Regions from separate parts of the Homo sapiens genome. Here region 1 is linked to region 2. The links come from fine-mapping of genetic effects on gene expression. Tissue or cell type: whole blood. Region 2 holds a variant in brackets; the other region holds the start of a gene. All regions are shown on one strand. Distances are from middle to middle.

Region 1 (8,149 bases), 59 kb after region 2:
AAAGTATATAAGAGCTACTAAATGAGACCAATAGTCTATCTAGTCCAATATTCTAATATATTGCTAACTTACTTGAATGTATGGAATGCTTTTCTATCAAAAGCTGACATTTATGATACTTTTAATGCACCTTTTGAAAACGGCAGCTGAGGCTTAGTGATTGCTTTAGTCTGCTCAGGAGGATATAAGAAAATACTGTAGACTGGGTGGCTTAAAAAACAGAAATTTATTTTTGTGCTCTTCTGGGGGCTGGAAGGCACCATTGGGTTCTGATGAGGGCCCTCTTCCTGGCTTGCACAGGGCTGCCTTCTTGCTGTGTGATCACCTGGCCTTTCCTTGGTGCATGCTCACGGCAAGACAGAACTCTGGTATCTCTTGCTCTTCTTATAAGGACTTTGATCCCAGTATGGAGGCCCACCTTCATAATCTCATCTAAATCTAATTACCTCCCAAAGATCCCACTCCTAAACACCATCACATGGGGGGAGTTTAAGCTTCAACATATGAATTTTGGGGAGACACAAAACATTTAGTCCGTAATAGAGATTAAATCACTTTTCTATAGGTACTTAAATAATCCACCTGCGGGGCAAATGCTGACTCCAAATACTGTTTTCTTTTCCCTAATCATTTGTCTTTGTTGCTTTTTATACCTAGGTACTCAAATAATTAGTCCTTTACAAAGCGAGATGCTGCTAGTTCTCATTGATTGTCTCTGATGTATCCTCAAAACATGAATCATCTTTTAATGATCATTTTTCATATATGTTTATCCATGTTTCTTAACTGTTTTAGTGAAAGCAAACAATATAAGGTCTCTCTCTCTCTTGCTCTCACTCTTGCTCTTTAAAGTTTCTCACAACAACAAAAGGAAAAAAAGAAAAGGAAAACCTGGGCTCTTGGTGCTTCTGGCAATTATATTCAAACACAAGAAGCACCCAGATTGTAATTCTGATAAGTATTTCAGTTCTTTCTTGAAAAATTAAATTCACAAAACAATTGATTATCAGTTATAAATGGCAAAAACACCATCTGGTTTTCAAAATTGGTTAAATCCATGTAGCAAAGGGGAAAATTTTGGAACTTGTAGTTGGCGAGGAGTTCTAGTCCATGAAGCAGAAAATGACGAGCTTTACTATGAGAAAGCCAGAGTAGTCATAACTTGTACTTAGCGGCTGCGGGAATTTGATGCGTTCTTCACATGTTCCATATGTTAAATTGCTTGGCGAGATCTTCAGTGTGAAGGAGCTGGGGGTAGGAAAGGCGTGTGGCTAGTGGATAGACTAGAAACAGCTTAATCCTAAATTCTCTGCTCTGCTTCTTGCATGTAGACCCAGTCTAAATGTGCCCCAGGACTCAGTTTCTTTACCTGGGGAATTGTACGTGCAAGTTCCTTAACCTTATGGCACAGGGGACATTTTGGTGGAAATTTCTAAAGCTATTTGCATTCCTCTAGTGAGGTAAATCATACGACATTAGCATTTCCTACAGAAATGTCCCATGTTGTTCTTTGCCAACTGGAAATTTGAGTAGGTGTTCATTTGATGTGCCAAGAGAATGAAGGGAGATGAAAACACCCTACATCTTCCAATGTCCCCATACTGTGTTCCGAGTGTGGGAGGACTGGGGCCTGGCTAGATTCTCCTGGAGATTCAGCTTCATGAGGAATGTTTTTCCTTAGGAGTATACTGCAATTCTGTTAGTTAAAAAAAAAAATGTTTCTGGGTTGCTGGCATATTTTCATCTTATGTTAAAAATGTAGCTATCCTTTGCTTATTATTCATGCATTGTAATGTGAAATTTATTCATTCACTTTACGGATATTTAGAAAGGCACAGTGGTTAATTGCATAGGCTCTTTCTGCAAGTTAGAGACTGTAATCTTAGGGCAGTTACTTAATCTTTCTAATCATGTTTAAAAAATATAAAATGAAAGATAATAGTATGTACCTTGGGGATTGTTTCAAGTATTAAATGAGATTTTGCATGTAGAATACTTAAGAATTCAGTGAATGCAAGAGTAGTAATAATAGTAACGGCAGATAATAATGTTACTATGTGCCAGGCTCTGTGTCAGGATTCTTGCCATATAGGACCTGCCTTTATAGTTTACATATCACTTTCAGCATACATATGGCCTTACTTTTTTTTTTTTGAGACGGAGTTTCACTCTTGTCGCCCAGGCTGGAGTGCAATGATGCGATCTCAGCTCACTGCAACCTCCGCCTCCTGGGTTCAAGTGATCCTCCTGCCTGAGCCTCCTGAGTAGCTGGGATTACAGGTGTGTGTCATCACGCCTGGCTAATTTTTGTATTTTTATTAGAGACGGAGTTTCGCCGTGTTGGCCAGGTTGATCTCGAACTCCTGACCTCAGGTGATCCATCTGCCTCAACCTCCCAAAGTGCTGGGATTACAGGCATCAGTCAGCGTGCCCGGCTGGCCTTAACTTTTTTATTCCAATTTTGGTGGAACTTTGCTCTCTATTTGGTCCGACCCAGGTACCTCACTGCCAGAGGTAGTAAGAACGGGTAGGACTTTGCAGACTGGGCATTATCCTGGCACCCACGTGGCAATGGTTTCCTGTCTCCTGTAGTGCTGTTCTCCTGTTGGAGCTTTCCCCACTTCTGAAGGACTGCCTGCAGTTCATGCATCGGGGCCTGTAATTACAGAGCAGAATATCCAGGGCTGTGAAGACCGGGCAGTCTCGAAATTAGTTTATGCATAATGGATAATAGGAGGCTGTTTTTAAGTGTAACTCATTTGGTGGGTTGGCAGATCATGACTTCCTTTTTGATATGTATTATTTATTTATTTTATAGCAAGATGAGGACAGAAGGCTGGGGAAGTCATTTGGCGCAGCTCTTCTAGACTATAGCTCAGACTTAGCAATTTACATTCAGTAATCTCTTGGTCATTTAGCCACAGATAATTTGTCATGGTTTGTTTTAGCTGTTGTGATATTGATATTTATTATGCAAATTGTATTTCCTACATCTTATTGTTCTGCATTCTATGAATACTTAAATTATTATAAACCTTTACACTTAATATGGCTCGTCCTTCAATTTGATGCTTGAGCAACAGAGGGTCAGAGCGCACACGATCTTCTAGAGGGGAAGAAAATAAGTAATTAAAAAGCAGACAAACAAGAGAGCCGGCTGCCTGGCTGAAAAGAAAGCAAAGAGAATTTCGGGGAGGGAGAGTGAGTCCGGAGATGCAAGTCGCTTTAGCAGGAGAGGCTCTCCCAGAGACAGGGGAAGCTCGGAGCACCTGTTGGTCCCCAGCTTCCTTAGGAAGGGCTGGGGGCGCAGAGGAGGAGTGAGAGGGTTTGAGCCCCGAAGGAGGAACACGGCAGACCCTGCCTTCACCACACTCCCTCTCCCCAACTCCCACCACCCCCGCTCTTCACCTGAAGCCTTGACTAATTTTTTCCGTTGTTGTGTAATCTTAAATATCTAATATTACAAATATTTCACACATATATTCAACACACACCTATATATTAAAACCAGGGAGGAGACCCTCGACAAGCGGAGGAGCCTGAGCATACCCTCCTCGATCTACCTTTCCCGAGATTCTGCCGCAAAAAGACCGACTGGAAAATCTCAGAACCCGACTCTACGGCTGCCTTCTCCAACTATCCCCGAGTCTACCGCTAGGCTGTTGAGCGGGCTCTCCCGCTCCGCCGGACGTGCAAAGCACGCATGCACTTCTCCCAGATTGTTTTGTCAATCCGGGGACCTGCCTTCTTACTCTCCACTCCCGCACAGCCCCCGTTCCCAAAGATCTATTCCTTCGGTGCAAGGTGAGTGACGGAAATTTGCAACGTCTGGTTCGCTAGGCCAGATGCACTCGGTGTGCGGGACAGAGGACCCTCTTAAGGGAGATTCTCCAGTCGTCGGTCTGATACAGCGATTGCTATAAACATTCCTAATAAAGGTGTACAAGAAGCTAGACCCGCCCCCTGGAGCCCGAGTCCTTGCACGCCAGGCGCCCGGGAGAACACTTTTTCCTTGATCCGGGGAAAGCAAAACCCGAATTTTAACATAAACATATTTGCATACGCCCCTCCCCTTGGCCCCGCCCCTAGGTGGCGCGGGCGCGCCGCCGAACGCCAGCGCCAGGGGGCGGGGTGGGGGAGGGAGCGAGGCCCTCCGAGAGCCGGGTTGGGCTCGCGGCGCTGTGATTGGTCTGCCCGGACTCCGCCTCCAGCGCATGTCATTAGCATCTCATTAGCTGTCCGCTCGGGCTCCGGAGGCAGCCAACGCCGCCAGTCTGAGGCAGGTGCCCGACATGGCGAGTGTAGTGCTGCCGAGCGGATCCCAGTGTGCGGCGGCAGCGGCGGCGGCGGCGCCTCCCGGGCTCCGGCTCCGGCTTCTGCTGTTGCTCTTCTCCGCCGCGGCACTGATCCCCACAGGTAGGTGTGGGCACCGACCGGTTGGCCCCTAAATCTCCGAAGGCACCCCAGTAGCCTTGGCCACAGAGGGGGGAAACGTTTCCATGACAACCTCCCCCCACTTCCTACATCCGAAGCGGAGGGAGTGTGGAGAGGAAACTCAGGGCTGAGAGGGAAGGGGCTGAGGGCATCTGTGAGCCCCTTCTCCCCTGCCCGGCTAAGTGTGAATGAGAGTCCCCAGGGATGGCTGCACCCACACCTTCTCTCCCCGGCTTGGCGCGGGGTGCAGAGTGGAGTGAGAATGGGGGGCCCGGGGGCTGTAAAGCATGGGGGAAGGGGATGGTTCAAAGACAACCTCAACCCTTCCGGACCCTTCTAAACTCGCCGTTCTCCCCGTAACTTGCAGGTCCTCCCACCTCCCAGGGCTGTCCATTCGCCCCCACCTCTCCAGAGGGCCCCCCCAGTTCTCCATCCCCGAAGCCTCCTGGTGGCTGACTCCCAGCCGCCCGCGGCGTGATTTCTCCCCGGTCCCCAGGACATCCCCAGACTTGTCTGATCTCCCCTGCCCCTTCCCCCAACGCGCTCTGCCTTTCTCCCCTGTCCCCAAACTGCACGCCTCTCGTGTTTCCCTCCGGCCGTTCGCAGCCCTCCGCCCCCTCGGCTCTGCTGCGGGTCTTTTTGGCCCGGCTCCAGGCGGGGAAAGTTCCCCGGCCCGGCCCCGCGGGGGGGGCGGCCGCTGTCGCCGCCTCTGCGGGAAGGCGCCGGGAGCCCGCAGCCCGCCCGCCCCACAGCGTCCTCTGCCACGAGTGGGGACACGGGATTTCCCGGCTGCCCGTTCTTTCGGCGGCCCGAGGGTGGCGGAGGGGGCGTCGCGGCCTCTGCGGCCAGGCGGGCACCCTGCGGGCCTCCGCGCGCTCCCTGCGTGAAGAGCAGTCTTGGGAATTTGCCCAGGGGCGGCTCTGCACGCCCGGTGCCTTCCCTGAAGACACCGAGCACTCGGCTGGAGCCCGATGTGTGGCTGCCCGTGTGCCGGGCGCGTTGGCGCGGTCGGGAAAGAAGAGGGCAGTGTTTGCTTTTGCTAACAAAAGGGAGCCGGAGCTCTTCCTCAGCGGAGAGGCCGGCTGTGCTGCACCCAGCCTCCCTTCCCGCCACCTCGCCGCGCTTGGCAGCCGCGCGGCGTCCTCTGGCCCCTGCTGCAGGCTCCAGGCGGGCGCCGGGACCGAGTGGCACGGGGCCGCGGGGTGCGAGCGGCGATGCAGGAGGGGATGCAGCAGGGCTCTGAGCCTGCAAAGCCCCTCCTTGCAGCTCCAGAGCTGCAGGACCCGGGAGCAACAAGTGGCGGAGGACGCCGAGAGCTCAGCCCCCACCTGCGGAGCCCCAGGCCCGGGCGGGCACAGCGTTGGGGCCACGGTGCTGCTTCAGGGGCGCCTCTCCGCTTGGGCTGTGCCTTTTGTTTACACGCTAGAGGACACACAGTTATGTAAACACCGCAGGAGACACGCTGTAGGAGACGGGGGATGTGTGGGGGTGCTAGCTTGAGATTTGGGGGACGCCGGGTTGGCTGCTTGCCCCCAAAATAGGCTTGCAAAGGAGCTCGGCTTGGGAAACCTATTGGGGGGCGTCTGGCAGCAGCGTCAATTCCAGCGCTGAGGGTTTTTTTCCTCCATGCCACTGTCTCCGGATGTTGTTTATGTGTTTTTCCTCTGTGAATTCTTAATTTATGAGTTACGAGATAATTGGGTTCAGCCGATGCCGGTGTGGTTACAACTTCATTTCAGGTGATGCCTCTGACTGGATGGGTTCAATAAAATGTTCCTGAAAGAGATCCCTCGTGCTGCTGCATTGTAAAAAGCGCCAGTGTCAGTTAAACGTGAGCGTGAGTAAAGGCTCGGTAACTGGCGCATAATAGAGGCAACAATAGACTTGTATTGGCTGCAAAAAAAAAAAAAAAAAAAAAAAAAAAAGCCGGGGGGCGGTGGAAAGCTGTGGTCGGGGATATTGCTTTTTGACTAAAAATGGGAGTCGTGCAATGACGCTTGGCAGCAGAAGTAGGATTAGATTATGCCTCCCCTGTCAAGACTGCTCATTGAAGGCACCGGGTAGTAGCAACGGTACTATATTTGTAACTATCTCGCGGTGAGAAGTTGCCTTCCCTGCGAGGGATATATGCTGACTTAGGAGCGGTCTGGAACTCAACCGTGCATGTCAAAGCTACATGAAAATTCTGTTGCCAGTTACCATGGAAGCAGCTTCTTGCTCTTGTGTACATCCCTGTTTGTATGCTGGTTATCAGATTGTGTTCAAATTAGAAAGTAATTGGGTATGATTTGTAGTGAGGAGATGAGATGACTTTCTTAATTTTTTTCTCTTAATGCATATATATATATTTCGTGGTGAGTTTGAGAGGAGGTCTTGGCTCATTCCGGGGTCCCATACCCCAGGGGTAAATTTCAGGTGGGCACCAAGGGACTTTTCCTCCTCAGTTCTGTTTAAGCTTTCTCAGAGGCCTCCAGTTCCCACTCCCAGGGTTAAAGAAACCTGTTGGTGCATCTGACTTCATTAGGCTTGTTTCGTTTACATCCTTGCTGGGAAAGCGAATTAGGACCATCGTGCGTGGGTCCTGGTTCTGTTTTCTCCTGTAACTGAAGCCATCCATCCCCCGCAGAAAATCTCCTCTCATTTCTCCTGTGATGTTTGGATGAAATGGATGTTAATGAAATGCAGTAAAAATGGGTTTGCTTAAGCTCACTCCACAGTGTTAATCACGCCTGTTATACGTTCAAGGTGCATGCATGATGTTGTTTACGATCCCGAGTGAACCAGTAGCTGATCACCCCCCTCTTATCATTTTCAGGATTAGAGAAGATGGCTGGTGGATGGGGGATTTATGGTGGTGATGGGAAGGAGGGGGGCTGACTTTTGCTTGCTTTGGCCTGTTGGGGCTTGCAAACCGGGGATAGAGACTTTACAAAAGTGCCGCCCTGTTATTGTTGCCTTTCCCTGCATCAGATTGAATAGCCGCAGTAGGGACTTGCACTTGTCTGTGATAGATTTGATAAAATATCCCTCATTAATGCCACTTTATATTTACAGTGTGTCACTGGAGACGCACAAGGCTTCATTTAGTGACTTGTGTGACGAGACAAGCTTGCATTATTTGCCTGGGACGTTTTGGAGGAACAAGAGACCCATTGAGCAATCTTTTGAAATGAACAAATACGAAAAAGGGGGGGAATAAAAGAGCAGGCAGTTCTCTGGAACAAAGAGCTTTATTCATATGGATGTTGTACATGCTTTATCCAGTTTTCCCCAATGGCCCTCCTGGTAAAGGGGAGTGGGACAGGGAAGACGCCAACAGGCAGGACACTTTCGTTTCCTCTCTCACTTCCTGACTTCATATTCTTATCGGAGTTGGTCCCCGGCTCACTGCCTGCTCATCTCTCTCCACACTCTCTAAAATCCCAGAAGGTAACGGATTCCTGGGTCTCCACAGAGAGATTGTGAAATCCTTTCTTCCAGCTCTAAATTTCAACAGAAGACAATGCTAGCTACCTGTTGAGGTTGATGTTGTTGGAGGATATATTGGTTGAAGGGAAAGAGATGTCACTTTTCTATGACATGTGTCAAGAAGTGGTTGATAGTGAATGTCAGATTGGTAAGATGTCTTGCAATTATAACATTAGCCTTATTATTTATTTGGAAAGAAATGCTGTGAAAACCAGCATCCAAAAATTGTATTCTTATTGATGGTGCT
Region 2 (8,193 bases):
TCAGATTTCTAGAGTTTTCAAGTCTTGTTGAGTCTCTGTATTGTTTTCTTTAGTATACTTCTTTCCCTTTGTTTTCTGCAAATCCTGCTCACCCTAACAGCCGACCTTTCAAGAACTGGCCAATGCTCAGAGACAGCATTGCCTAAAAAAAAACCAAAAAAACAAAAAATAGTGACCGAATGTTTCAAAAGGTCTAGATATCCAGGGATGATAAAGGGCTTCTTTCCCATCTGTCTTTCCCTGCTGCCTGAGCATCCTCCCCCGGCCCGTGGGACCCTCCACCCAAGGCAACAGAACCCAGGCTGGTCTGGACTTGGCTGGGGGTAACCCTCATCCCCCAGATGGATCTAGAACACAAGGTTCCTCCTGTGGTTTCCCGGTGATGTCTAGAAGTTGTGTCTGCCCACAAAACTGTGCAGCTATAAGACTAGGTGCAGATCTGGTTGTGCAGAAAACAGTATGCAATCGCCACTGGCCTCGTCTGGGTGAAATAAGGGCCAAAACCACACAGCCATGTGTGTAGACTTCCTTTCCTTTCTCTTCTTTGTTCCTTTTCCTCCCTGTAAATGTTCTCTTTCCTGGACCTGGGGAGTCAGAGAAACCCAGCAAACTGTTATTTCCTTCAGCATTACAGCAACTTGTGCTCAGATTAGCCCTGCTGGTTTTAATGGGAACATCTGCAATTCCTGAAGCAGTCGGGTCCTTAGGATGTCAACCCCAGATCACATCACTGCAGGGTGTGCCTATCTCTGCCGATGTGGGCAGGGAGCAGCACCAGAGGGTGAGCTGGAGGAGGGAGTCACACACACTGGACTTTTGTCCTGGACTGTGTGTTAAAATAGGTACAATGTGAATCAAAGTGGAGACAAAAGGGGGAGGCTGCACTGTGTCCCAGTGTGAAGAAAACAGGCTGCTCTGAAGTTATCGCGTCTCTGAGTACAATGTAATTTCTTCTCGGGCAGTGCTCTGATAGCCTGACCAGCAGGGAGGGCTGGAAGTCGTGCAAGCCAGACAGAGGGAGAAGTCATGATGAGTGATATCGCAGTTCCAGGCACCGGACTCAGGTTTCCCCAGCCTTCATTTAGGGCACAAATCGCTGATCCAATCTTCAGCCAAAGCTTTCCCAAGGCCAGTCACACCTGCCTCTCTCCCTTCCCCTATGCCTTTTGCCTCTTTTGTCAGGACTATAAAGAATACCACCTGGGCATCTGAAGTTATAAGAAAATTCCCGCAAAGAATTTCAAAATATCCAGGGTCTCAAGAGCACAGGAAATATCCAGGCAATTCTCCTGTCCTGGGCAAGCCTCCACTCATATCCTCCCAGAAGTATGACACCCCCTTAGGTAAGAAACTCTTCAGGCCAGGCACGTGGCTCACTCCTATAATCCCAGCACTTTGGGAGTCCAGGGTAGGAGGACTGCTTGAGACCAAAAGCTCAAGACCAGGTTGGGCAATATAGTGAGACCCCCATCTCTACAAAAAATTTAAAAATTAGCCAGGCATGGTGGTGTGCATCTGTAGTCGCATCTACTTGGGAGGCTGAGGTGGGAGAATTGCTTGACCTTGGGAAGTTGAGGCTACAACAAGCCATAATGGTGCCCCTGCACTCCAGCCTGAGCCACAGAGTGAAACTGCATCCCAAAGAAAAAAAAGCCTTGAGAGAAAGACTCATCCACATCCCTCTGTGCCCCATTCTAACCTCCACCAAACCCCACAGCAACTTTTTTTTTTTTTTTTTTTGAGTCTCGCTCTGTTGCCCAGGTTTGAGGGCAGTGGTGCAATCTCAGCTCACTGCAACCTCCACCTCCTGGATTCAAGCAATCCTCTCACCTCAGCCTCCCGAGTAGCTGGAATTACAGGCGCCGGCCACCATACCTGGTTAACTTTTTTTTTATTTTTAGTAGAGACGGGGTTTCACCATGTTGGCCAGGCTAGTCTTGAACTCCTGACCTCAAGTGATCCACCCACCTTGGTCTCCCAAAGTGCTGGGATTACAGATGTGAGCCACTGCGCCCTGCCCCATTTCATCTTGAGTCCCTTCCCTACCATTCGCTCCCCAGAGGCCAGGAGCTGCCTCTCCTGAGTAGGTTCTCCCCCGACTCCCACACACCAACTTTCTACCACTTTTTACAGGGCCTGGAAATCTGGGGACTCCAGAAGGTGCAGCCGGCAACATCTATTGTTTAGAGAAGCCGAGACTAGGCTGAGTCAGGTAACCTGTGCAGGAGCAAGGTGTCATTTCGTTTTTCTAGGTCATTGTGTCTGTGTGGCCCTGGCCAGAAACCTGCCTTTCTTTCCCTGCCAGGTCACGAGGGAGGGAACACTCCTCTGCCGGCCGTGTCTCCAGGGTTCTTAGGGTGAACAGAAGGAAAGGCCCTGATTGACTTCCCCCTGCCCTCAGGGGTCTGAGGCTTGGAAGAGGCCTCCAGCATAGGCCTACGATTCCCATGTACTTTAGCAGGAAATGGGGTGTGGAACTTTTCAGGGATGAAGGAAGGGAGGGGCGTCCATTGTTTCTCATCTCCTGACCCCCAAAAGCTCTCAGTGGGGAAAATGGCTCCAATGTGGGGTGAAGGACTGTAGGGCTGAGCTGACAGGCAACTATGGATTGGCTGTGGACAGCCCACAATTTTTCTTAATTAGCCATGGCATCTTGCCCATCATGGAAATAAATAACAGGTGTCCCCTAAGGACAGCACATGAGAGGCGCCATTTATCGCCGTTCTGAGAGGAAACTGACAACATGACGGGTGACATAGCAGAAATAATGAAGAAAAATGGTAGTGGGCAAGGAAAGGCCCTGTCAGAGGAACCTTGCAATCAGTCCCCAAAGGGAAGACCCCTGCCCAGCACCCCTGGGAGGGCAGCACCTCCCCAGTGGGCCTGTTCTTCAGGCAAGAGTTCCATCTCCCATTAGCACTAGGCAGGCACCATACAGTAGCATTTCAGGGTCATTGGCAACCCCTCCTGTACCATCATGGGTCACTGCGGATGTGTGTCAGAGTCCCTGAAATGCCACTTTGAGAGTTTTATTATTTTAGATATTTCAAGTTCAGGCAACTCTAATTTGTCTGTGTGGATTATCTCTGCCAAACGTTAAGAGTGTAGGCCACTGATCTGCCACCTGACATCCTTCTGGTCATTCTCTCTAATAGGTGGTTGCTAGATCTAGTCTAAAGGTGAAGAGGGGTCCCTCTCCTGTCGAAAGCTCGTGTTTCCACCTGTGCTCAGCATCACATTTCTCTTCATTAGCCAGGCATAGTGGCATGCACCTGTGATACCAGCTACTTGGGAGACTGAGGCAGAAGGATTGCTTGAGCCCGGGAGTCTGAGACCCGTCTGGGTAATGTGGAGAGACCTCATCCCTAAAAATTAAAAAAAAAAAAAAGAATTAGCCTAGTGTGGTGTCACATGTCTGTGGTCACAGCTACTTGGGAGGCTGAGACAGGAGGATGACTTGAACTTAGGAGTTCAAGTCTGCAGAGAGCTGATTGCACCACTGCACTCCAGGCTGAGCAACACAGTGAGATCCCTATCTCCAAAAAGAAAAAAAGGAATTTCTCTTTATCATGAATCCCCTCTCTAACCTCGATACTTAACTCTTCCTGTCTACTTTCCTTGAAGAATCACATACACTAAAGTCTCTTCCATTAAAAAGAAAACAATCAAGCAGACTGTGATGGTTAATTTTGTAGCAACTCGACTGGATTAAGGGATGCCCAGATAGCCGGTAAAACATTATTCTGGGTTAGGGTGTTTCTGGAAGAGGTTAGCATTTGAATCATTAGACTGAGTAAAGATCTGTCCTCACCAACTTGTGAGCAGGCACCATTTAATCTGTTGAGGGTCCAAATAGAAAAACAACAAACAAACAAACAAACAAAAGGCAGAGAAAGGGTCAATTCTCTCTCTCTTCTTGAGTTGAGACAGCTATCTTCTCCTGCCCCCAAATAGAGGAGCTCCTGGTTTGCAGGCCTTCAGACTCAGACTGAATTACACCACCAGTTTTCCTAGTTCTCCAGCTCACAGATGGCAGGTTGCGGGACTTCTTGCTTTCATAATTGTGTCAGCCAATTCCCATAATAAATCTCCTCTTATATCTCTGTATATATCTATTGGTTCTGCTTCTTTGAAGAACCCTGACTAACACACCAGGCCTCCCTGTAGGCTACATTGCTCTTCAGCTACCACCTTCCACACCTCTTCCCTTCCCAGCCAGCTTTTTAAAAATGTCCTCACCTTCTTACTCCAAAATCCACACCAGTTTGACTTTTGCCCCAAACTGAAACATCTCTTTCCTAAATCACCAGTGATGTCTGTGACTAAAGCCCATGGACACTTTTCAGCCCTTATCTTATTCATCATTCCTCTTT[C/A]TTGAAATTCTTTCCTCCCTTGGCTTTGGAAAGGCTACATTTCTCAGGTTTTCTTTGTACTTCTTCTCAGACTCCATGGCAGCTCATTTTCTACTGCCTACAGCATAAATATTGGGAATCTTCCAGGCTCAAGACTCAGCTCCCCCTTCTCATTCTGCACTATCTTCCTAGGCAGACTCATGGATTCAATGACCTTAGGGGTCTCGATGATTCCCAAGTCTATGTCTGTAACCCAGTTTTCTCCCTTGAGTTCTATCACTGTAGATCTAATCTCTTACTGGAAACTCTCTGGGTATACTCTATAAGCACCTGACTTTGAACACATCTCAAACTGAATTTCTCTTCGTCTCTCTTTCACACTTATGTGCACGAATACACACTCATGTGTATTTTCCTGCCCTCAAATACAGGAGCTCCTGGTTCATAGGCCTTCAGACTCAGGCTGAATTACACCACCAGTTTTTCTGGTTCTCCAGCTCACAGATGGCAGGTTGTGGGACTTCTTGCTTCCACAATTGTGTCAGCCAATTCCCATAATAAATCTCCTCTTATATTTCTCTATATATCCTATGGGTTCTGCTTCTCTGGAGAACTCTGATTAATACACCAGGCCTCCCTATAGTCTACATTGCTCTTCAGCTACCACCTTTCACACCTCTTCCCTTCCCAGCATGAATGCATGCCCAGCCAAACCTGCTTAGGAATGGCAGCTTAACCTATCCTTACAAGGAACAATGAAGATAGCCATACAACTTTTACACTGCTTCATGTAGTCCTCAGTGCTTTGGGAGCAATTAGCCAAATTTTACTGGCTGGGACCTTGGGGTGGGCCCAATGAGTCTAGTATGTATATGCTTGTTGCCTATACAAAATTGGGCAAAGCCAAACACAGGTCTGAGAAGTTCAAAAGATGAGATGAGGTGAGGCCAAAGGGAAGGGGATACAGCATCCATGTTCCATCCATGTACGGCAAGCCCCTTGCAATGGGCAAAGGGATGTAGAGATGCAACCAATCCCAGGAAGAAAGACAGATAAGAAGCAGATGGCCTCCCAGAGACCCCATCATTGATGAGTTTCAGAGCAGCGGTCCCAGCTGCAAGGGGCTTAGTAATACCAGACAGAGAGCCCAGAAAATTATAGAGTGGGAGAAAATTACAGAGTGGTGCATCAAAGCAGAAGTCTTGGCCTATGGATTGAATAATAGTAGAAGCATAGGAAATGCCCTGACTAGGAGGTTTCTTGGGTACCCAGTGCTCATCCAAGCACACCAAATCCTGAGTGTCAGAGAACATAACTTAGTTCTCATCCTCACCAGATGATTGCACTGAAGTCCCTGCCCCAATCATGACTGCCTTAGAAACTAGGATGTGCCTGAGCCTCCAGTTCAGATCCCTTCAGGAAAAGGAGGGATGGGAGAAAACAAAGGCAGGATAATAAGTTGAAGAGGCTGGTAGCCTGTGTCCTATACAATGATTTATTTGTATGTATTTTGCACTGTGACTTCTGGGGGTCAGTTTTCTGTGGCAAGCTGGCCTTTTCTCTTTCTGGACCTGGTTTTGCACGTGGTGTTGCATGTTTGGGGAATGAGTAGACCAGGGTGGCCGAGGGTATTTTCTATGGAGCAGCAACAGTAGGGTGTTGTCCTACCAGAAGTTTTGATCTTGGACTCATTGATGGTCCAGAAGAGGCTTTCTAGTGTTTCAATTGAGGCCATTGAATACAACTGCAGGAAAAAATAGCCTTGGTGATGTAATAAATCTAAGCCAAATGCCTGCCAAGTATAGATACAGTGTGGATCTTTATGTGTTGCTTGAGGATGTCTTTTGTATGGGAATGAGGCTGTTCTCTAGCCTTCAAGTTTTCCTTCTGATGGTAACATAAAAGGGAGTCTGGAGAGGCTAAGATGGGAAAAAAAAATAGAAATAGGGAAGAGAAGAGATAAGTAGTACTACTTTATGTTTACTAAACTGCTACTGGATGTCAGGCTACTGCATAGATGCTAGAGAAAGAGTCTATGGTCAGGGAGTTCACAGATTTGGGGAAACAAATATGAAAATGAACCATATATATATACATACATATATATATATAGAGAGAGAGAGAGAGAGAGAGACGCAGTCTCGCTCTGTCACCCAGTCTGGAGTGTAGTGGCGCGATCTCACTCATTGTGACCTGTACCTCCCAGGCTCAAGTGAATCTCCTGCCTCAGCTTCCAGAGCAATGGGATTACTGGCACCCACCACCACACCTGGCTAATTTTTGTATTTTCAGTAGAGACAGGGTTACGTCATGTTGGCCAGGCTGGTTTCAAACTCCTGACCTTAGGTGATCCACCCACCTTGCCTTCCCAAAGTGCTGGGATTACAGGTGTGAGCCACCATGTCTGGCCACCTCTAATATTTTAATACTATGTGACAAATACACTCGTAAGAGTAATGATGATAATTGATACAGTCTGAGCACTTATTACAAACCAGGTGCCATGTGAAATGCTCTACATGCATTGTATTATTTAAACCTATCAATCCTATGAGCACGACGCCATTATTTCCATATTATAGATAAGAAAATTAAGGCTTCCGAAGGTCAGATAACTGATCTGGGATCACTCAGCTACAAGTCGAAGAGCCAAGATTCAAACCTATAACGTCTGAGTCTAGAGGTCATACAGTTAATGCCTCCACCTGCAGCTTACTCTAATTAGAGTAAAGCAGAGGAAAACACAGGGAAGAATGATCAACTCTTCCCAAAGAGCTCAAGGATGGCTTGAGAGATGATACTAGTTGAATCTTGATAAATCAAAAGGAGTTTACAGGATAGGGAAGGAGAGAAGAACACTTCAGGTGGAGAGAGAAGCATGAATAAAGCTAAAGTCTATTTGGAGCACTAGTCAGTGTGAGTACCCCAACGCACAAACACACTCACACACTCACTCAAAACTACATTTATATGCACACATGTACACACTCATTTGTGCATAAACGTGTGCACATATCACACATTCTTACACACAAATGCGCTTATTTCACACACACTTAACACATCAGTCAGACCCATGCACATGTACACATATGTGCACAAGCTCACTAAGTAAGCACACACAGGCCAGGCATGGTGGCTTATGCCTGTAAACCCAGCACTTTGAGAGGCCAAGGTGGGTGGATCATTTGCGGTCAGGAGTTCGAGACCAACCTGGCCAACATGGTGAAACCGTCTCTACTAAAAATACAAAAATTAGCCAGGTCGCAGTGGTGTGCACCTGTAATCCCAGCTACTTGGGAGGCTGAGGCAGGAGAATTGCTTGAGCCTGGGAGGCAGAGGTTGCGGTGAGCCAAGATCATGCCACTGCACTCCAGCCTGGGTGAGAGAGTGAAACCCTGTCTCAAAAAAAAAAAAAAAAAAAAAGTAAGCACACACACTTTACCAGCTCTGTGAGATGTCTACCTGAGGGGTGTATTCATTCCCATTCATCCTCTTTTCCAGTCTTCAACTCCAGTGGTCCAATAATAGTAAATGTTGTCCTTCACTGAGTGTCTCTGTTCTTCAGGAATTGTCCTATGTGCTCTCCATGCACTATCCCTAATGCTCACAAGAAAAGGCAGGTGTTGTGGTTCCATTTCACAGATGTGGTTATAGGGCCTCAGAACAGGCTCAGGATCTTCCCAGAGGCAACATAGTTCACCAGTGGCTTTAAACCCAAGCCCATCTGTTTCTAGAGCCTGAGCTCTTTAAGCCAGCGGTCACCAACCTTTCTGGTACCAGGGACCATTTTCGTGGAAGACAATTTTTCCACAGACTGGAGGTGCAGGGGAGGGTTTTG

The links. PIP is the estimated chance that this variant, and not a neighbour inherited with it, causes the effect.
Region 1: it holds the start of CADM1, and the variant in region 2 is fine-mapped to the expression of CADM1 in whole blood (INTERVAL, PIP above 0.99).

The regions. Positions count from the first base shown.
Region 1 is chr11:115,500,538-115,508,686 of GRCh38, reverse strand. CADM1 (cell adhesion molecule 1) reads left to right here and starts at 4,272. Exons shown (of 12, transcript NM_001301043.2): 1 at 4,272-4,416. The coding sequence starts at 4,293. RefSeq lists a silencer at 4,087-4,246.
Region 2 is chr11:115,559,152-115,567,344 of GRCh38, reverse strand. No RefSeq gene overlaps it. Among named protein-coding and RNA genes, the nearest start is that of CADM1, 59 kb to the right of the region's middle. The variant C/A (reference allele first, on the strand shown) is at 4,374.